3 linked regions of the Homo sapiens genome follow. The protein of the gene in region 3 interacts with the protein of the main gene of each other region in a biochemical or structural test. Each region holds a gene or a part of one and is shown on either strand. Other genes may lie near its edges. The genes, in order: CAPN2, NOS1AP and PTPRN.

Region 1 (7,106 bases), on a different chromosome or scaffold from region 3:
GCATGTGCCTGTTATCACCAGTGATCTTTCAACAAATGGTAAAGCTTCTCTGAGCTCCTTTACCAAAAGCGCATCCTGTCAGTTAAGCTGAAGTTCAGAGATGAAGCACCAACAGCCCCATCCTCGAGAGCCGGATCCTGGGAGCTTTAAATCTCATTTTCCAAAGCTAGGCAGCAGTGAGAGGTCTGGGTGCCAAGCCCCCTCTAGCTCTTGTGATCCTCCCTCATACATGGACTCAACCCCCAAATCCTCCCCACCGTCCTCAGCCCCATACCTCCTGGCTCATGCGGAAGGGGGTTGGAGGCCCAAGCCTTCATAGCCCTGACTTGAACTCAACCTCTTACTCCTCCCTTTTATCTAATCCTGCAGGTTGAAAGTAACGGAAGCCTACAGAAACTGATCCGCATCCGAAATCCCTGGGGAGAAGTGGAGTGGACAGGGCGGTGGAATGACAAGTGAGGAGGGCGCAGGCCTCGGGGCCCCAGGCGGGGGTGCATTGTGCTGGGAGGCTCTGGGAAGAGGGCGAGAGAAGAAGACATGTGCATTATTCTGAGAAATATAGCCAGGAGAGCCCAGGCCACGTGGACAGGGACCCGTGGACAGGGGCCCCTCAAAGGGTCTTTTAACCAGGACACTCCTCCAGCAGCCTGAGTGCCTTCTTCCAGGCCCCAAGCTGCTCGTGTGAAGTTCATTCCTGCCACTGCCTCCAGGTTCACCCCTTCCCTAGCTCAAATCCACCCTTCTATGGGGCTTTCAGGGAAAAAAATACACCCCACCTTCCCCCAGGCACTTCTATTACAGGGATGTGAACTTTGTACCAAAGGCCAGAGAAACATCCCTCTGTTGATTTCCAGGGCTTACTGGTAGGCATGTTGAACCCTCAACTATTTGGGGTAAACACTTGTTTGTACATCTGCTGTGGCAACCTCAGCCTACTTGCTCTGCCTCAGGTTGGAGAGGTGGGCAGTACAGAGGCCTGTGTGTAATTCCAGCCAAAGCTCAGGCAGTGGTTAGTTTACCCTGTGCACTGCCCCTGTGTACAGGGCCAGGTCCTTCTGCTCCGTGGACAGAGAGACACCTGCTGAGGCTTCCCAGGCCTCAGCCGGAGGCTCCTCATCAGATCTTCAGTTGTCTCTAAAAGAGCTGCCAGGCCCATCTCAATTGGGCAACTGCTCTGAGCTACTCCATCTCCCTCTAATGAACTATGTTCATTTTCTGGACTCTTCCTTGCCACTGTCTTCCAGCACAACTCACCCGCTCACTTTGCTCCCTGGTTTGCATCTGTATAGTGTTCTATACTCTTTAAAGTGCTGTAAGAGTATTAAAATGCAGCTGTTAGCCAGATGTGGGCTACTTTCCCCCTTTCTGGAGCCTGAGCCCTCAGAGGTGAGAGCAGATGTCCCTCTTCCTCAACTCTGGGGCCTTTGGGGAGAAATCATCGTACACTAACGCCTCTCTCTTTACTTTGTTTTCCAGCTGCCCAAGCTGGAACACTATAGACCCAGAGGAGAGGGAAAGGCTGACCAGACGGCATGAAGATGGAGAATTCTGGTAAGATTAGTGGAGGCTTCAGGGAAAGCTCTGTCTGCCCCAATGTTCTTTACTAGAAAACTGCTAATTAGAAAGAGTGTCGGCCAAAGTGAGTTTACCATGTCGAGGACACAAGCGTGTGGGATCCTGGTTTTGTTATTTTAAGTTCACTATAAGAGCCTGAATAAAGAAATTCTTAAGCCCCTTCAACGGTCCATCTTGACAATGGGGTTTATAAGCTGAGCAGCTTCAGAAAAAGGCTAAGAGGAATTCCTTTGGTAATGTTCAGATCCCAGGAAACAAGGGAAAGATGGGGCCTTTCTCCCCCAGGTTCCGGAGACTCATCCCAGCCCCTTAAGAAACTGGTCCCTTAGTGAGCAGCAATGGACCCACATGTCTGTGTGTCTGCGCCACTCTATAACCACCTGCACCTGGACACAACATGCTCTTTATCAAATGGGGCCCATATATTGTCACATTTGATGGGCACGGCTCCCATTTTTGCAGGTGAGAGTTCTGAGCTTCAGAGAAGTTTAAGTAACCTGCTCAAAGTCACCCAGCTAGAAAGTTGCAGCGCCAGGACTGGAATCTGGGCCTTCTGATTCTGAACCTGGTGCCCATCCACTCAGTTCTAATGAGCTGCTCTGCCTGGCTTTGGGTGGCTCCTGGTCTGGTGTTGGTGGAAAGTCAAGGCTTACCAGTGTGTCTTCTTATCACCTGTGATGATTGTCTCTGCTTTTGCCAGGATGTCTTTCAGTGACTTCCTGAGGCACTATTCCCGCCTGGAGATCTGTAACCTGACCCCAGACACTCTCACCAGCGATACCTACAAGAAGTGGAAACTCACCAAAATGGATGGGAACTGGAGGCGGGGCTCCACCGCGGGAGGTTGCAGGAACTACCCGAGTAAGGGCTGTTGCATATAAGGGCTGTTGCAATGCGGGGCCACCAAAGGCCAAAGCTCCCCTTACCCCACCCTGTGTACCACACCCCAGCCTAGCAGCCCCAGGAGGCAGCTCCTGCTCACTGGAACCCTCTCTGTCTTCTTTCTCCCTGAGCCTTTTCTTTTCCCTGAGCCTTTTCTCCCCGAGCTCTCTTTCTCAATCCCTTACCTCCTGCCCTACCCAGGACAAACCCAAGAGCCACTGTTTCTGTGATGTCCTCTCCAGGCCCTAGATTCCCCAGCGCCCATCATGACCTTCAGCCTGACCTTCCGCCATGCTCACGGAAGCAGTGCTCAATCCCACTTCACGGCCATGAGCTGCTCTATGCACCCCACACCCAGGCAGCCGAGCCTACAAGGGAACCTTGTCCCGGCACCCAGGGAGCCCTCCACATATCAGGCCCTGTTTGTTGCCCCATACTCACTTCAATCAGCAAATGTTGACTGGGCGCTGCCCAGATGGGGTGAAGATTTCTCCTCTGGTCCAGCCTTTGTTGAGCCCCTTGATTCTTCTGCCTTCATGGCTTAGTCCGTCAGCAGTTGTCTGAACATGATGACATCTGCCAATTATGGGGCACACCTTCAGTGCTTGGAACTATCCTAAGTGTTTTGTACACAGGGTGAGGATCCATAATCTGAAAATGTGAAATCTGAAATGCTCCAAAATCCAAAACTTTTTCAGCCCCAACATGATACCACAGGTGGAAAATTCGACACTTGACCTCAGGTGACAGGTCGCAGTCAAAACACAGTCAAAACTTTGTTTCATGCACAAAATTATTTTAAATATGCTATAGAATTACCTTCAGCCTATGTGTATAAATTATATATGAAACAGAAATGAGTTTTGTCATTAGACTTGAGTTCCATCCCTAAGATATGTTATGTATATACAAATATTCCAAAATCCAAAAAAATCCAAAATAGGAAACACTTCTGGCCCCAGGAATTTCAGATAAGGGATATTCAGCCTGCATAACATTCTATCTAACCTTCCCAACAAACTTCTGAGGCAGGCACTTTCTTATCACCTCCATCTCTAAGATGAGGAAACTGAGGCTTGGAGAGGCTAGTGACTTGCTGAAGGCCACAGAGCGTGCTGGGATTTGAACCCAGGCCCCCTGACTGAGGAGTCACTGTGTAAGTACAGTGGCAGCAGATCATGGTCACATAGTGATTCTCTGTGACAGATGAGGAAGCTGAGCCTCTAAGTCGCATACCAGGGCCACAGAGCAAGTAGTCAGACTGCGGCTAGCTGGCCTACAGTTCTGGGGCTCGGACTCCTTCACCTCAAGTATGCAGCCACCAAGTGGCAGTCCCAGAGGCGCTGGGAAGGCCCTCTGCCCCCCACAAGGGACCCCTCCTACCCACTAGATCAGGAGTCGGAAAACTCCCTCTAAAGGGTCAGATAGTAAATAATTTTGGCTTTGTGGGCCACTCAGTCTCTATAACAACAACTCTATTGCTATAACCCAAAGGCAGCCATACTTAAGCGAATGGCCGTGGCTACGTTCCAATAAAACGTTATTTACAAAAACAGGCAGCGGCCTTCGGAGCCATAGCTGCCAACCCCTACACAAGATGGTGCCTGTAATTTCACAGTTAGGGTTTTATCCCATTAGGTATGGAAAGGCAATTAGCATAATTCCCCTTAAACATGAATGAATCTTAGATTTTTTAAATAAATAGGTTTTGGAAGTAAAGAGGGCAGAGACATCAGGAGCAGGGCAAGGGAATAGGCCTGAGAGGACAAGGGACGCAGAACAAGAAAGAGTCTGGAATTATACACAGGATGTTCTTGGCCTCCGGGCTCACCGAGGGGGCGGCGACCGGCAAGTGCAGGGAGCAGATCCCGGAGTCCCCCAGGCCAGCCGAGCCCCGCCCCAGGCTCCCCATCAGAGCCCAGTGAAGAGAAGGTACCATGAGGGGAAGCCACAGCTCTAACCACCCTGCGTTCCAGAGTGACAGACCAGTCCCCAAGACAAGCCAGCCTGGAGCCAGAGAGAGAACTGCAAGAGAAAGTTTCTAATTTAGGTTCCTGTTAGATTCAGACAAGTGCAGGTCATCCTCTCTCCACAGCTACCGTCACCCGTCTCCAGCCTAACAAAGCCTGCAGTCCACACTCCAACCCTGGTGTCTCCCACCTCCTAGCCTCTCCCAACATCGCCTGCCGTCTCTGACCATCTTCTGCCATCCTCTGCCATCTCCCACCATCTCCCACTGTCTCCCACAGCCTCCCACCGCCTCTTGCCAACTCCCACCATCTCCCGCCATTTTCTGACATCTCCCGCTGTCTCCCACCATCTTCTGCCATACTCTGCCATCTCCCACCATCCCCCACCACCTCTTACCATCTCCCACCACCTCCCACCATCTCCCTTTATCTCCATCCCTCTCAGAAGCCTCCAAGCCTGAGACCAGGGCCACCCCCCACCCCCATGCATTCCTGCTCAGGGCTGGGCTCCTCTGCCCCTTTCTGGCTGCAGACACATTCTGGATGAACCCTCAGTACCTGATCAAGCTGGAGGAGGAGGATGAGGACGAGGAGGATGGGGAGAGCGGCTGCACCTTCCTGGTGGGGCTCATTCAGAAGCACCGACGGCGGCAGAGGAAGATGGGCGAGGACATGCACACCATCGGCTTTGGCATCTATGAGGTGCAGAGCGCAGGGGCTCCTGCCCTCCCTTCCCCATGTGTTCATCTCAGCCCCTGCATGGAAAGCTGACCCCAGAGGCAGAACTGGGGATGGGATCCCAGACCGGGAGCTTGGCCAAGGAAAAACAAAACTACCAGCCTGGCCAGGCTCAGGAGTAGCCCCCGTAGGGAGGCCCCTGCAGTGGCTCTGGGTTGTGGGGCCTTCTAAGCCCTTCACGGGCCCCCCACAGCCAGCCTGCAGGGAGTTCCACTCTCAAATGGCCTCCACATCCCTTCTCACATCCTCCAGGCCTGGCATTCTGGTCAGCCTACCCATCTTCAAAGAACAGAATATACTGGGCCACATCAGGCAATACTGTGAGGGCAGGACTGAGTCCATGGGTGCAGCTGCTCAGAGCTCGGCAAAGTCATTGGCCTGGATGGTGGAGAGCTTGGGGACAGGGGAACATTGGTCATGATGCTCCCCCCAGGGCTCTGATGGCTGGAGCCCAGATCCCTACACAGACTCCTGCTGTATGCGTGTTTTCCTTTCACTCTGAGCCACAGCCAGAGGGCAGCCGCATTGCAGTCTCCTCTCCGCCCTCAGGCTGGGGCTGGGGCACTGAGAACTCACCCAACACGCTGGGCCCCTGGGCTCTCCCCACTCCCTTCTGCAAAACAAGAAAGAGCTTTCGTGGGCTGCAGGTAGCCATGCGAGGAGAGGGATGAAAGGAAGGCTTTAGGGCACTGACTGGGGATGCATTTCGGTTTGATGGGCTGGAGCTGGCTCCTCCCGGCTCCCAAAGCCCATCTCTTTTCTCTGACCCATGTCTGCTGAGGTCCTTCAGCAGCCTGAAAAATGGCCCTGGCAGGGACCTGTTTACACCATGGAAAGTGGCAAATAGTACAAATCAGAGCTTCCACCCTCTCCCAAGAGCCAGTTTCCCAGCACACCCCTGGGAGAATCCAGACGAGGTGTCAGGAGAGGAGGCTCTGTGCTCACCACTGGCAACGTTGCCACCCATGGAACACTGACTTCTACCTGCTCACCCACCTGAGAAAGGCAGCTGGGCAAATACCATCAGTTGTAAAAATGCACATAGGCCTAAACCCCTCCGTCTCTGAAACAGGAGCTGAGGACTTCGGATCTGGGACAGAATCGATCCAAGGACAATGCAAATGGAATTGTGATACACAGCTTCCCTCCCACCGGCTTATGGGCTTGGAAATGCAGCCACGGGCTTTCAGAGTTGGGACGGACCTTGGGGATCACTGGGTCCTATTTTTGAGACAAGAAAACTGAGGCCAGAGAGGAGAGGGGACTTGCTCAAGGAAATGCAGACCGGACCACTGGACCTGGCTGACAGAGGCCGGCACTGCTGGCTCCTAGCCCCAGGTGTATTTCACCTCGCCTGCTGCCTCCTCCAACAGGGCCCGCCTGGCCCTCTTTCCCTGCGTGGGAGGCCGATATGGGCTTTGCCACCTTAGACAAGTCTCTTCACATCTCCATGCCTGAGATTTATACTCTAAGTTAGGAAGGGAGGTGAGGGCTTATCAACATAAGAGGATTTTCTTCAGTGTTGGAGAGGCTTTGAGTTCCTTGGAAAACAGTTACTCGGTTGAATTAGTTGATATTGCTAATGCTACAGAGAAAACGGGGGCAGCGGAAGAGAAGAGCACAGTGATGCATTTTCTTACACTGCTTTTCCGGCATCTGAATTGCATCTCCTTTATTTTGCAGGTTCCAGAGGAGGTACGTCTGGCCCATGTCCCGGGGTGCTCAGGTCACCAAAAAAGCGAGAGGCTTAGACTGCTGGAGCTCAGGGAGCGTCGTGAAGCCCGGGCAGGGGCTGGTGGTCATGAAGGATGAGTCCTGGCCACCCCTGGGGCCCTGCTGAAGTTGCCCAGGCTCTAGATCCCACTGGTCTAAGCTCTGGGCAAGGTTTCTGGAAAGTCCTTGTGGGACCCGCTGCCTCCCTGTGACCTGGCAGAGCCCATA
Region 2 (7,106 bases), on a different chromosome or scaffold from region 3:
AGAACAGAGTGTCTGAATATTCTATAGATTAAAACCATGCACAGATGAAACTAAATTGCAACTTGTAGGACTTAATAACAATAATAAAAACAGCAGCCAACTCTGTGTCATGCACGGTGCTAGGCCATTTACAGGTACTACTGATTCAATCCTCCCATTAACCCTACGAAGTATGAGATATTTGTATCCTCTTTTTACAAATGAGAACGCTAAAGGAAAGATGTTACATAACTCACACAAAGTCAAGTAGCAAGTGAGGGATAGAGCCAGGATTTGAACCCAAACACAGTTTGGCTCCTGAATTCATGCCATGCTATGCTACCAACCAAATTCATGTCATAAAAATTGCAAAGTAGCAAATTACAGAAAATAAACCATGAATTAGGAAAAAAAAAAGACATCAATTCATTAATGAGAAAACAAGTTGAAAATGTTTCTTACATAAATGACAATTGAGAAATGACAATTACCTACTCCTGAAATTGGCCATATGTTCTATATTCAGATTCTAATTCCACTGGACATCCATCAGTGGAATTTTATTTAATTCAGGAAAAAAAAATGCTTACTTGGTATTTTCATTGGAAGGAATCAGCACTGTGTGAGATTGGGGGTATCAGAAAGAGGCCATGCTGGGGGGTCCCTCAAGCCACTGGGAACCGGAAGTTACTAGACTAAAGCAAGAGAAATGGTGGGGAGGAGTGGAGAGTCAATTAAGGCACCTCTCACCATTGGGTGACCCAGGAGGGTCCTGGCCATCTTATAGGGATCATCTCTTTCATTCAAAATACATTTTCTATGTGCAAGGCACTGTACTCAGGGCTGTGGAAGACACGGGGGCAGAGTGACATGGACCCTGACAATGACAATGTAGGGATGAAAATTGGACAGGACAAGCAGCTCTAATACAAAGCAGGTGGGACTGGTAACATCCACTTCACAGAGTGACTTGTGAACGGGGTGGGAAACTGCAGTGAGGGTTAAGGGAATGGTGGGTACTACAGTTGGGTTGAAGCCCAGGGTGATTAAAGGGAATTGTTCAAAAACAGCCTTGAATATCATACTAAGAATTTTGGTTCTAATATAGTAGGTACAGAAACTTTTCATGTTTTTGAGTGGGAGGATAACCATTTCAAGAAAATTGATAGGGCAAAAGTTTAAGGGATGAGGGGGATCAGAGAACAAGTGGGACACTGGAGGCCTTCAGAAGGTTATTGATGGCCCTGATAACAGGGGAGGGGGTGGAGCATCTGAACGGGTGATGGACCAGCCAGGGTGGGTGGATGGATGTCACTGGGAACATTCAAGAGGATTTGGCACCTAACTTGATGTGGGGTACAGGAGAGTAGAGCCTGGACATCATAGGTACCCAGTAAACAGCAAATTTGAGTTGGCTGTTAAATCAAAGAATACAAGGGGTACTTTAAAGTGTCAGGCCCATGTGCCCAAGAGGATGGTGGGGTCGTTAAAAGACAATGAAGTCAGAAGAGAAATTTGATTTCCAGCTTGTTGAGTGATAGGGACAGCAACACATTCAGGTACAGATGACCAGCAGGAAGCTGCGCATAAAGATGTGGAGTCTGGACTGAAGTAGAGAGCCAGCAGCCTGCATAACAGAAGAGTGGGAGTAGATAGAATCCAAAGGAGAGGGAATGGAGCACTCACAGTAGAGGGCAAAGGGAGGAGGTAGAACAGCCACAAAAGAAGGAGGTATGGGCAGGGGCAAGGGGCTGGCTGACTGCAAGCAGGCACAGAGAGCCCAATGAGGCATTCCACAGAGGACTAGGACAGGCAGCTCAGGAAGAAAAGTCAAAAAGGATGAGGATAGAGAAGGGGGCAGCAGAGCAATTTCAGTACAGCAGCCAGGACAGAAGTTGGAAGGAAGTGGCCAGGGACTGAATGAAGACTGAGATACTGCAGAGGGTGGAGTACTCTCTCACAAGGCTTAGCTGTGAAAGGAGGAGAAAGACAACATGTTAATTAAAGAAAGAGGTGGAAAGAAGAGGTATTTCATACAGGGAAGGCCATAGCATACTCTTAGGCAGGGAGGAGTAAGCCAGTGCCCAGGAGATGTAACTGTGCCAGGGTGGGGGTGGGGAGTGAAGGGCATAATTAAGAGGACAAGGGCAGACTAACAGGACATGGAAGGCAGATGGATCTCAAAATGAGGGAAAAAGAAAAAAAATTGGACTTCACCAAAATTTAAAACTTTGTGTTTCAAAGGACAATACCAAGAAAGTGAAAAGACCACAGAATGGGTAAAAATATTGCAAATCTATATAAGGGATTTGAATCCAGAATATATAAAGAACTCTTACAACTCAATAGTAAAAAAGCCAATCCAACTTTTAAATGGGCAAAGGATCAGAATAGACATTTCTCCAAAGAAAATATATAAATGGCCAAAAAACACATGAAAAGATGGTCTTTTTTTTTTTCTCTGAGTCTGCTTCCTAGGGAATGAGGAGACATTCTATGTTGTTCAAAAGGGAAATGCAAATCAAAACTATGATGAAATCCCACTTCACACCCAGGAGGATGGCTAGAATCAAAAAGTCAGACAACAAGCATTGGTGAAGATATGAACACACTGCTGGTGGAAAGGTAAAACGATGCAGCCACATTGGAAGTCCCACAAATGGTCACACATGGTTACCATGGGACCCAGCCATTTTACTTTTACCCAAGATAAATTTTAAAAAATAAAAATAAAAACATGCCTGCACAAAAACTTGTACATGAATGTTTATAGCATTATTTTTAAGAGGCAAAAATGGAAACAACCTAAATGTGCCTCAGCTGATGAATGAACAAACCAAATGTGGTATATCCATACAATGATATATTATCCAGCCATATAAAGGAATTAAGTACTGATAAATTATAGATGAACCCTGAAACACAACACTAAGGCAAAGAAGTCAGACACAAAAGACCACATATTGTATAATTCCATAAATATGAAATGTCCCGAATAGGCAAATCTAGAGACAGCAAGTAGATTAGTGGCTGTTCAGGTCTGGGAAGACGCAGGGGGTAAGGATTACAGGTGTGTGCCATCATGCCCAGCTAATTTTGTATTTTTAGTAGAGATGGGGTTTCACCATGATGGCCAGGCTAGTCTTGAACTCCTGACCTCAAGTGATCCACCCGCCTTGGCCTCCCAAAATGCTGGGATTACAGCAGTGAGCCACCGCGCCCAGCCTAGTGTTTCTTTTTAATGTGATGAAAATGTTCTAAAATTGACTGTGGTGCTGGTAGTACAGATCTGTAATATCTTAAAAATCACTAAATTATACATTTTAAATTAGTGAATTGTATGGTATGTGAACTACATCTCAATAAAACTATTAGAAAGGAGGGAACTCAATAGTAAAAAGCCAATCCAACTTTTAAATGAGCAAAGGATCAGAATAGACATTCTCCAAAGAAAATATATAAATGGTCTTTTCCAAAAACAGAAAGGAAGAAGAAAAGTAGCAAAGATCAAGTTTGCAGGGTAGGGCAAAAAGGCAGGAAGGAACGGCCATGGGCATGGTCCCAGGCTGCTGGGGAGGGTAGACAGCAGGACAAGGGCAGCAAAAAGGTCACTGAGGAGCTAAGAGCATCCTCAAGGCAACAAAGGTATAAAGGGAAGGCAGGTAATTATAGCCAGCGAAAGCATTCTGAAAGTTTGAGTCTTGGGAGTAGCTGCATTATGAGTAGGCAATAGTAAACAGTGAGTCAAGCCTGATTAGTATAGATAACTGGCAAAGGTCATCATTAGATGTGGCTGCATGATTTTGACCACTAAAAAGGACTGGGACATTGTGGGCAAAGGAACTACGACTGAAAGCCATAAAATCATGAAATGTACAGCTAACGTGGAAATAGATTTGTCCATCAAATCCCAAGATACCAGGTGTGGAGGAACATACTGGGACATCTGAGAGCAATGTAAGGACAAATAAAATAGGTGTCATTTCAGAGCAGTACTGTATCTTTGGAACTCACTGCCCCCCACCAAAAAAAAAAGTAGTCTGGGCAGAAGATAAGTGTTTTTAAAAGCATCTGGAAAAGCATAAGAAAGTGAACTACGTCTCCTCCTTAATGATGACATCAGAAAATACATCAGACCCTTAATCTGAATTGCTACTGTTCCAGAACCCTGGAAGACAGGACCCTTAGTCTGGGTGGAGAGAAGGGAGAAAGGGGACATAAACACCCAGTGTATAGTGGAATGGTTCTGAGAGCTCTGTACCATGCCATGCAGGCTCAGACGAGTCAGGGATACCCCATTTACGGTGACCAAATGTCATTCATCTGGAGGCCTTCATGGCCGTATGTTTAAGAGGCATCCACAGATATCCTGCTGAGGTTACTGGAATCTCTAAAATCCACATCAGGGAAACCATCAACCAATGAAGCCAGGTAGCAAGGAAGGAAATATAGCCAGAGAATTCAGCTTCAATCTGACCACATGCTCCCAAGCCACAAAATCACTCAGCAATGATATTTACTGCTTTCAGACTTTCCACAATTGGTCATTTCTTCCACTTGACAATTTTTCATTGTGACTATGTTTGTACCTGATGTTGAGGCTTGGGAGGGGGAGATACACCAAGGCATGAGGCAAGGTCCTCAAAGAACATTCCATATCACCAGAGAAGATATATGCAGAGAGGAAAAAACAGAATTTTGTGTGGTAAACAGCTTCAGCAATATCTCTCATCCCACGTGCAATCTTGCAATGTGAACTTGACATTCCCCCATCAAGAAGTAGGGCTTATGTCTCTTCCCTAATAGCCTGTTTTGACCAACAGGATGTGGCAGAAGTGACCCTATGTAACTCAGAAAGACCCAACCTTAAGAGCTTCTGCTTTCCTGCTTGGAACACCCCCTACTGAAAACCAGCTGCCAAACAAAAGGGCCACCATGCTGTGAGGAAATCCAAGCCAGCCAGTGAAGAGAATAGTCACATGAAGGACGACCAAGGCACAGTCATATGAGTGAAGCCTTCTTGAACATTCCAGCCTAGCTGTGGATGAATGCAGCAAAGTGAGTGATCCAGTCAACGCCATAAGCAACAGAAGAACAGCCCAGCCAAGCCCTGCCTGAATTCCTGAGCCATGATTCATAAGCAAATTAAACAGTTATTGTTTCAAGCTACTGAGTCTTGAGGTCGTTTGTTTTGAAGTGATGGATAACTGAAACCAGTTTGAAGCCAGGGAACCAGGGATAAGTCCTGGTTCTGTTATTATCTGACTATGTGACCTTGGGTCCATGACTTCCCCTCCAAACTTCAATTTCCTCATCTGTACAATGATGGGGTGAGGGGGTTGTACTAGATGAGCCATGGTGCTTTCCAGTTCTGACCATCTGTATCATACACGCAGATATAAGGGAACAATCTAGGCAATGAGTGTTAGGACTACAAAGGGAGCAACTATTAATACTTCAGGTTTGAGTGAGCCTTGGAGGAGGTGAAAGAACCATGGACCTGGAGTCAAAAGCCCTGGAGTGTGAGGATTAAGTGAGGCAGAGGCTAGAATAATGTATGGCACATAGTAAGTGCTCAATAAATATCATTAACTGATACACCAATTTGCAACTCTGGACAAATTAATCTCTCTGATCTCCATTTTTTGGTCTGAAAAATCGAGATAACACTAATGTGCCTGTGCCTGTCTCTATAAGAGGAAAAGTCTTTGTATGTAGAAGTCCAATGCAAATCAAAAATCACCTACAGATATAAGATATAACTATTATTAATACTCTTATTATCCTTTGTACCCATAGCATTAAAAGTCTCTTTCTCACCAAGAGAGGAGAGACAGTCAGTTGATGGCACTGGCCACCAGGAAGACATACTGGGAGATCAGGAGGCAGTTACTAAGGAGCCACAGGCTCTCAGGGCATGTGAGATTTACCCACCCACCAGCATCAGTCAGTAAGCCAGGTACCCACTCTGAACACAGACAACAGGTTTCCCTGGCAAGCAGCTCTCAGCCCAAAGGGAAATCTGGAAACAGCCAAGCATTAAAAGTTTGAGCCGGGCGCAGTGGTTCACGCCTGTAATCCCAACATTTGGGAGGCTGGGGCAGGCAGATCACCTGAAGTCGGGAGTTCGAGGCCAGCCTGACCAAAACGGAGAAAGCCCCATCTCTACAAAAAATACAAAATTAGCTGGGCATGGTGGCGCATGCCTGTTATCCCAGCTACCCAGGAGGCTGAGGCAGGAGAATCACTCGAACCTGGGAGTTGGAGGTTGTGATGAGCTGAGATCATGCCATTGCACTCCAGCCTGGGCAACAAGAGCAAAACTCCATCTCAAAATAAATAAATAAATAAATAAATGTTTGAATAATTTCCTGTACCAGAGTTCTAGAGGCCAGCAACCTGAGAACACTCCACTAGAGAGCTGTGACTCAAACCCGTGGCCAACATAGAGTGAATATTCCATAAAAATTATTGAATGAAAAGGCACTGGATTTGGGAGTCTGAAGTCAAAGCCCCAGGCTTAAATCTTGGCTTTGTCATACACAACTGTGAGCACTAAGGCACGCAACAACCTCCCTGAGCCTATGTCCTCGTTTATAAAATAGACATAAGGAGACCCATCTCCTAGGGAAGTAGTGAGAATTAAATGAGGTACTGCAGGTGAAAAAAATCTGGGATTGCACTTGATAACTAAATGCATGGGTTTTTAAGTGCACAGAACCTCTGCCACCCAGATGCCCTTCGATCCTAACCCCACACCTTTCAATCTCTGCAGAACCCTGAAAATGAGTGGCATACTTCCAAAGGAACACTCAATCCAATGTTGATTCTGAAAAACTGCCAGCCCTTGGGAGAGAAAGAGCTGCACTCATTTTCCAAGGGTACCCGACAAGGCAACAATAATACATTTGCATTTTCCAGCCTGCATTTTTCCAAAACAAGGGAAGACTGCGATGTGGATTTAACCCTGAAATCCCAGTGATTGTGCAGTTGCATAGACACTGCTCTGCAGGGATGTGGAAAACAGCCAGAGAAGGCTCTTACCAGGAGCATGTAGGACAGAAAAGCTCGTGCTTCCACCTCTGCTTAGGTCTTGACTAACATGGTGTTTGAATGTGCCAGGGTGC
Region 3 (7,505 bases):
TGAGTTATTGTGGTAGTTTTTGTTTGTTTGTTTTAGTAAAGTGAAAGCAGTTTATTAGAGAAGTGAAGAAACAAAAGAATGGCACTCCATAGACAGAGCAACCTATTGTGGTGGTTTTTAGTGGTCCCCCTCACCAACTCTTGACTCCATCTATTCTAGTCTCACTACAGCAGCAAAAGTGATGCTTGTCAAGTGTAAGTCAGATCATGTGCCCCCAAGCTCCAAATCTTGTAATAGTTTCCTTCTTTACTCAGAGTAAAGCTAATGTCCATACATTCCCCTATGAGGCCCTAAAGTGATCCACATCCCTTCCCCCATTACCTACCTGACCTCACCTTCTACTCTTCCTCTCCATCAGTCTTCTACAGTCCCCTGGCCTCCATGGTGCTCTTCAGAATTGTGCTTTTGTCCTAACTGTTTGGTCTGCCTGAAATACTCTTCCCCTAGATAATCTTCTGACAAACTCCCCCACCTCCTTAAAAAGTCTGTTCAGATTTCATAGTCTCAATAATGTCCACCTTAACCACCTGATTTCCTCATTTAATACTGTAGCTTTCTACCTCACCATTTTGATCACTTTATCCTGCTATAATATTATATGCTATTTATCATCTTCTAAGACACTATGTATTTTCTAACTTTTATAGCGTGTTTCCTCCCCTTATCCCCCAAACAGAAACTCCAGTAAGCAGAGATCTTTGTTTTATTCCCGATACATTCCAAATACCTAAAACTATGCCTGCTACATAGTAAGTACTCAATAAATACTTGTTGAATGAGGAATTGGGTGAGTGGAATATTATCCTGGCTGAGGATTCCAGAGTTCTTGGCTCTGTAGCACTCAGACAATGCCAGTGAGAGGAACTGGTCCTAAGAAGATGGAAGCTGGCCTTTTCCAGTGACTTCTTCTTAGAAGGCTCCTCTGGGCTTCTCCAGAGAGTCCAAATGTGAATAGCCCATCTCTAGGGTTCCACCTCTTACTCTAGCAAGATATGGGAAGGTGAGGCTCCAGCAGTGGGGGTGATAGGAATATTCCTTGAAGAGAAATCTTCTTCCCCACCCATAACTAACCAAGTTCCAATCTCTCTCCTCCAGTGCACCCAGACCTTACCTTGGGACATGAGTTGTCGGAGCACACCTTGTAAGCGTTGGAGAACTGGGGAGGTGACTTGCAAAAGGGGCCGGGCCTGCCCCACTCCCACCTGGCACTGCCCAAACAAGCCATCTAAGGGCACAAAAGTGGTGTCAGCAGGGGGCTTGAATAAGAGGCCTTCCAAAGTCCAGGTTGCAAATGGACTGTACTCTCTTCACTTTCTCCCCTACCTCTCCTCCTCCAGGCAAGTCTTCCTTCTTCTCAAGCCCAGTAGCCCTCTTCCTTTCTGGGCCTTCTCTCCCCTTCTTGTTTTTTATTGCCCCTCTCCCCCCGATCTTGTGAGTTCTATGCTTGGGCCTCACTCACCCTGAATACAGACTTCCAGGTGAGAGCAGAGCCTGCGGTCAAATAGACAGCCTGTAGAGGAAAAGGTGAGCAGAGGCTCAGACACCCACTCACAGAGAATGGGCAGATGGGTGGACAGGCTGGGAACGGGAGAAGCAGATGCAATTTATTCTTTCATTCTAAAGAAGGCCTTAAGCTGGGAGGAGAGTAGGAATCAGGCCTGAATTTCTTAAAAGGAAGCATGGGATCTTGTTTTGGATTTTAAGAATTTGTGAGTCTGTATCCTTAAAAGCCTCTGTTTGCTTAACTGAGTGATAGGGAAGAAACCTTCCAGGTGCAGGGAGAGAGATTCATAGAATTACTGCAGGAGAGGTTTTGGCCAAATTCTGAAAGAGGAATTTCCTTCCCAAATATGGAAAAGCATCCTATAATGGCCTGGAACTCAGAAGAGGTTCTAGCACACTTCCCCCGGTCGGGGGAAAGAGGGCATGGGTGGGGCTGGGGAGGGTGTCTCTTAGGCATCTCTCCTCGCGCTGTCCCGAGCCGCTGGCGCTGTCCGCGGTGCTGAAGCTCTGAGTCTGGCGCCGCCAAGGGCTGGCCTTGGAGGCGGTTACCAGAGAGGAAGGGGTCACAGAGCGAGGACTCTCCACTAGACCTGAGCCCTCTGTTGTATTCTGCCAACCCACAGCGTCACAGGAAGTACTCTGCCTCTCGGGCCTCCAAGCCCGGGTGGGGAAAGAGGGCGCCAGGCGGCGAGGCTGCGCCCCTTCCCCCACGCGCCACCCTCCCATCCCCCACCCCCTGTCCGTGAGTCAGCGCTGACTGTCTCTGTCCGCACAGATGTGAGTCAGCACCAGGCCTGGCTGTGGGGAGGGGGACAAGAGAGGACCCTCCCCTCTTCATCCTCTTCTGCCCCCTCCCCGTGCTGTCCCCCGTTACAGGAGATCAGATCGCTGCAATCAGCTTCTCTAGGCTTACGGAGAAACCCTGGCCTCTCTCTCTGCCCAGCTGGGACTCTATGTCTGCGGCCCAGGCTTCCACTGCCCAGAGATCACCGTTCCCTCATTCTCCCCGCCACCTCCCCTTCCCATTCCTCAGCGCCTGTCACCACCTCCCAGGCGCCTCGGAGCAAGTGGCTTCTCCTGTGGTCTCGCAGCCGGTCTCTAAGTCCCTCTGCCCACATGCACCCCGTGTCCTTCTCCCGAACCTGCAATTTTCCCCAGAGCCCAATTCTCTTAGGTCCCGCCCCCGTATTCCCAGCCCCACCTCCAGGCCTACGCCCCTTTCCTCCGAGACGCCCTCTCACCTTCCTCATCTCGCATGCCTCCCCCAACCCATATTCTCCCCGAGCTTCATGACATTTCACCCTCACCCCCACCGAGTTTCGCTCCAGGCCCCAAGCTGCTCCCCGCCCCCCACCACCCGCCAGCCCAAGTTTCCTCCTGACCGTGGGCACTAACGGCGCTGCAGCCCCCCGGGCGGCTGCTCAGCAGCAGGAGGCAGAGGAGCAGCCGGAGACCCCCGGATCCCCCGAGACCCCCAGGCCGCCGCGGGCGCCGCATCTTTCCGAGCTCCGGGCGCTCGCTCCCGGGCCGGAGCCGCAGCGACGCTGGCGGGAGCCTGCCAGAGGGGCTGAGGCGGGGCTTGCCGCTCCCCACCTCCCTACGAGGCGGGGTCTACATGCCCCTCTCGCTGCAACGCGGCCAACCGCAGGCGGGTGCTGACGACACCTCCACCCCCGGCTCGTAAGCTAATTTGCGTCACATATGGCGTAAGAGCCCTGTCGGAGCGGGGGACCTACCTAGCCCATCCCTCCTCCATCAAATAGTAGGCGCCTCGCTAGAATTCCCACTTGGCCCCATCCCTGTAGCCCTCTTCTAGGATCACCTCTGTCTCCCCGCCCCAGGGTGGGTGAAAAGGGTTAAGTTAAGTGGGGGGCCAGGAAAGATAGGTGGGTCCAGAACGATAAACCCGAAGACAAGAAGCAGAAAAGTGGGTAGAATAAGTACTCTTACTCATTGTCATTGAAGATACTGTTCTCTTCCTTAAGAAAAAATGGTTAGGCATGCCTAGATTCCAGTTCTAGCAGGGCATCTACTAAGGGTATGACCTTGGGCACCTTGTTTAACTTGTCTGCGTCCAAGTTTCCTGATCTGCAAAGTGGAGGTGTTAATAGTTACTACCCGCCTCACACAGTGATTGTGAAGATTTTGTTCGTTACACTAATATGGATCACTTAGAAGGATGACTGGACTGGTGCATACTACATGCTCCATACATATTAGCTGTCATCATTAGCTTTTATTTATTTTTTATTGAGATGGAGTCTTGCTCTGTTGGCCAGGCTGGATACTGGCGTGATCTTGGCTCACTGCAATGTCCACCTTCTGGGTTCAAGCCATTCTCCTGCCTCAGCCTCCCTAGTAGCTGGAATTACAGGCGCACAGCACCTTGCCCGGCTAATTTTTGCATTTTTATTGGAGATGGGATTTCACCTTGTTGGCCAGGATGGTCTTGAACTCTTGACCTCAGGTGATCCAACGGCCTTCGCCTCCCAAAATGCTGGGATTACAGGTGTGAGCTACCGGGCCTGGCCTCATCATTAGCTTTGACTCTCCTTTCTCTCCGTCTGTGCCACCTCGAGGCTATCAATCATTTTATGGTTTCTCCCTGCAAAATACATCTCCCATCAGTCCACTTCTGTCCATCCTCACTACCTGAACTGAAACACTGTGCTCTTTCACCACGACCACTGCAGCAATCAGCTAGTAACTGCTCTTTTGCTTCCACTCTAGTCATCCAATAAGTAGGGGAGTGAGCTTCTTAAGTTCAGATTTGATCTCCTTCCTCTCTTGCTTTCCAGTAAAATAAAATAAAATTTAAAAAGGACAGAAATGCATAATGAATACTTACATACTCATCATCCATACTTAATGGTTATTGATGTTTTACAATATTTGCTTCTTTTTAGTATTTAAACATGAATGATAGACATCATGACATTTCTCTTCTAAATATTTCATTATGCATCTCCAAGAAATAAGGACATTTTCCTGCATAACCTAAGTGCTGTTATGACACCTAAAAAAATTTACAATAATTCCTTAATATAATTTTTTAAATTTTTTTTTTTATTTTTTTGAGAAGGAGTCTTGCGCTCTTTTGCCCAGGCCAGACTGCAGTGGCACTATCTTGGCTCACTGCAAGCTCCCCCTCCCAGGTTCACGCCATTCTCCTGCCTCAGCCTCCTGAGTAGCTGGGATTACAGGTGCCTGCCACTGCACCCGGCTAATTTTTTGTATTTTTAGTAGAGACGGGGTTTCACCGTGTTAGCCAAGATGGTCTCGATCTCCTGACCTCGTGATGCACCCACCTCGGCCTCCCAAAGTGCTAGGATCACAGGCGTGAGCCACCGCGCCCGGGCATTCCTTAATATAATTTAATGCTCAGTTCATATTCAAATTTCTCAGATTGTTTCCCCAAAAATGCCTTTTCTTTTCAGGTGTTTTGTTCAAAATAACAGTCAATTAAGAACAACCACGGCCTTTGTTATGTTTCTTAATCTCTGTAAATTAGCATAGACACCATATCCTCTCTCCCCTCCCCCATTTTTGACATTGTCATGTTGATAGACCAGGTCAATTTTTCTTTAGAACTCTTCTTCTGGGTTTATCTGATTTTTTTCTTCATGTTGTATTTCCCTGTATTTCTCCAGTGTATAACCTGTATATCACCTGTATTTCCTGTAAACTAGAAGTTATATATGAAGTATTGACTGTATCAAATTAAAGAATTTTTAAAGCAAAATGCCTCTCATTGCATCATTTCAGGAAGTACATGATGTCTGACTGTTCTATTAGTGATGTTAAAATTGATCACTGGTTTAAGGTAGAGACAGCCAGATCTCTGTATGTAAAGCTGTGGTTTTCTAATGTGACCAGCATGTAATTCTTGGATGATACTTTGGCACTGTGAGACTATCTAGTTCCTCATCAACTTTTCACCTAATGGTTTCACTATTCACTGGTGATCCATCCTTGACTAAATGATTTCATTAGAGGTTGCAAAATGGTGATTTTTATAATCCTATCATTCAATTCACGTTTATCGCTTATTTTACTTTGTAAAGAAGGGCTTTCTCTCATCAACTGGGTTTAGTTTACACTAAAATGCAATTCCAACTGGAAAGGTAACATATATTCTCAGCTTTTTCTCTTTACCCTTCTGCAAAATAATGAGTCTGTGTAGTGTAGTGACCTCTAACAGTGACTAATACATTTTTAAACATTTATTTATTTATTTAGAGTCAGGGTCTCACTCTATCACCCAGTCTGGAGTGCAGTGACAAGATCATAGCTCACTGCAGCCTTCAACTCCTGGGCTCAAGCAATCCTTCTGCCCCAGCCTCCTGAGCAGCTACCATTGTGAGCAACCATGCCTGGCTAATTTTTTTTTTTTTTTTTGTAGAGGCCAAGCACAATGGCTCATGCCTGTGATCCCAGCACTTTGGAAGGCCGAGGCAGAAGGATCACGTGAGCCCAGGAGATTGAGACCAGCCCGGGCAACATGACGAATCCTTGTCTCTACAAAAAATACAAAAATTAGCTGGGCGTGGTAACACGTACCTGTAGTCCCAGCCAGGTGTGGTGGCTCATGCCTGTAATCCCAGCTACTCGGGAGGCTGAGGCAGCTGAATTGCTTGACCCTGAGAGGTGGGGGTTGCAGTGAGCCGAGATTGCGCTATTGCACTCCAGCCTGGGTAATAGAGAGAGACTCCGTATCAAAAAAAAAAATTTTTTTTAATCCATTTTTCTGCTGATGGACATTTGGGTTGTTTCAGGTTTGGTAGTATTATGCATAATGCTATTGAGAGGTGACAGCATGCTGGCAGCCCTCACAGCCCTCGCTCGCTCTCGGCGCCTCCTCGGCCTTGGCGCCCACTCTGGCCGAGCTTGAGGAGCCCTTCAGCCCGCCGCTGCACTGTGGCAGCCCCTTCCCCGGCTGGCCAAGGCCGGAGCCGGCTCCCTCAGATTGCGGGGAGGTGTGGAGGGAGAGGCGCGGGCGGGAACCGGGGCTGCGCGTGGCACTTGCGGGCTAGCGCGAGTTCCGGGTGGGCTTGGGCTCGGCGGGCCCCGCACTCGGAGCGGCCGGCCAGCCCCGCCGGCCCCGGGCAGTGAGGGGCTTAGCACCTGGGTCAGCAGCTGCTGTGCTCGACTTCTCGCCGGGCCTTAGCTGCCTCCCCGCGGGGCAGGGCTCGGGACCTGCAGCCCACCAGGCCTGAGTCTCCCCCTCCGCTGTAGGCTCCTGCACGGCCCTAGCCTCTCTGACGAGCGCCGCCCCCTTCTTCACGGCGCCCGGTCCCATCGACCACCCAAAGGCTGAGGAGTGCGGGCACATGGCTCGGGACTGGCAGGCAGCTCCACCTGCGGCCCCGGTGTGGGATCCACTGGGTGAAGCCAGCTGGCCTCCTGAGTCTGGTGGGGACTTGGAGAACTTTTATGTCTAGCTAATGGATTGTAAATACACCAATTGGCACTCTGTATCTAGCACAAGGTTTGTAAACACACCAATCAGCACCCTGTGTCTAGCTCAGGGTTTGTGAATGCACCAATCGACACTCTGTATCTAGCTAATCTGGTGGGGAGGTGGAGAACTTTCGTGTCTAGCTCAGGGATTGTAAATGCACCAATCAGCACCCTGTCAAAATGGACCAATCAGCTCTCTGTAAAACAGACCAATCAGCTCTCTCTAAAATGGACCAATCATCAGGATATGGGTGGGGCCAGATAAAGAATAAAAGCAGGCTGCCCCACCGGCAGTAGCGACTCACTCGGGTCCCCTTCCACGTGGGGGAGGATTTGTTTTTTTGCTCTTTGTATTAAGTTCCTGCTGTTCAGTTGTGGGGTCCACACTGCTTTCATGAGCTGTAACACTCACGATGATGGTCTGCAGCTTCGCTCCTGAAGCCAGCGAGACCACAAACCCACTGGGAGGAACGAGCAAGTCTAGACGCGCCACCTTAAGAGCTGTAACACTCACTGCGAAGGTCTGCAGTTTCACTCTTGAG

What was found.
Region 1: of the proteins of PTPRN (region 3) and CAPN2, one has a biochemical effect on the other in vitro, tested with the Homo sapiens proteins (one study listed by BioGRID).
Region 2: the proteins of PTPRN (region 3) and NOS1AP form a complex in vitro, tested with the Homo sapiens proteins (one study listed by IntAct).

What each region holds. Positions count from the first base shown.
Region 1 is NC_000001.11:223,750,521-223,757,626, forward strand, and holds part of CAPN2 (calpain-2 catalytic subunit), read left to right. Parts: intron 1-369; coding exon 370-455; intron 456-1,476; coding exon 1,477-1,551; intron 1,552-2,275; coding exon 2,276-2,436; intron 2,437-4,959; coding exon 4,960-5,129; intron 5,130-6,848; coding exon 6,849-6,860; intron 6,861-7,106. UniProt on the Homo sapiens protein: Calcium-regulated non-lysosomal thiol-protease which catalyzes limited proteolysis of substrates involved in cytoskeletal remodeling and signal transduction. Proteolytically cleaves MYOC at 'Arg-226'.
Region 2 is NC_000001.11:162,072,683-162,079,788, reverse strand, and holds part of NOS1AP (carboxyl-terminal PDZ ligand of neuronal nitric oxide synthase protein), read right to left. Parts: intron 1-7,106. UniProt on the Homo sapiens protein: Adapter protein involved in neuronal nitric-oxide (NO) synthesis regulation via its association with nNOS/NOS1. The complex formed with NOS1 and synapsins is necessary for specific NO and synapsin functions at a presynaptic level.
Region 3 is NC_000002.12:219,306,333-219,313,837, forward strand, and holds the start of PTPRN (receptor-type tyrosine-protein phosphatase-like N isoform 1 precursor), read right to left. Parts: upstream 3,070-7,505; 5' UTR 3,001-3,069; coding exon 2,886-3,000; intron 2,639-2,885; exon of another isoform or gene 2,550-2,638; intron 1,511-2,549; coding exon 1,460-1,510; intron 1,226-1,459; coding exon 1,112-1,225; intron 1-1,111. UniProt on the Homo sapiens protein: Plays a role in vesicle-mediated secretory processes. Required for normal accumulation of secretory vesicles in hippocampus, pituitary and pancreatic islets.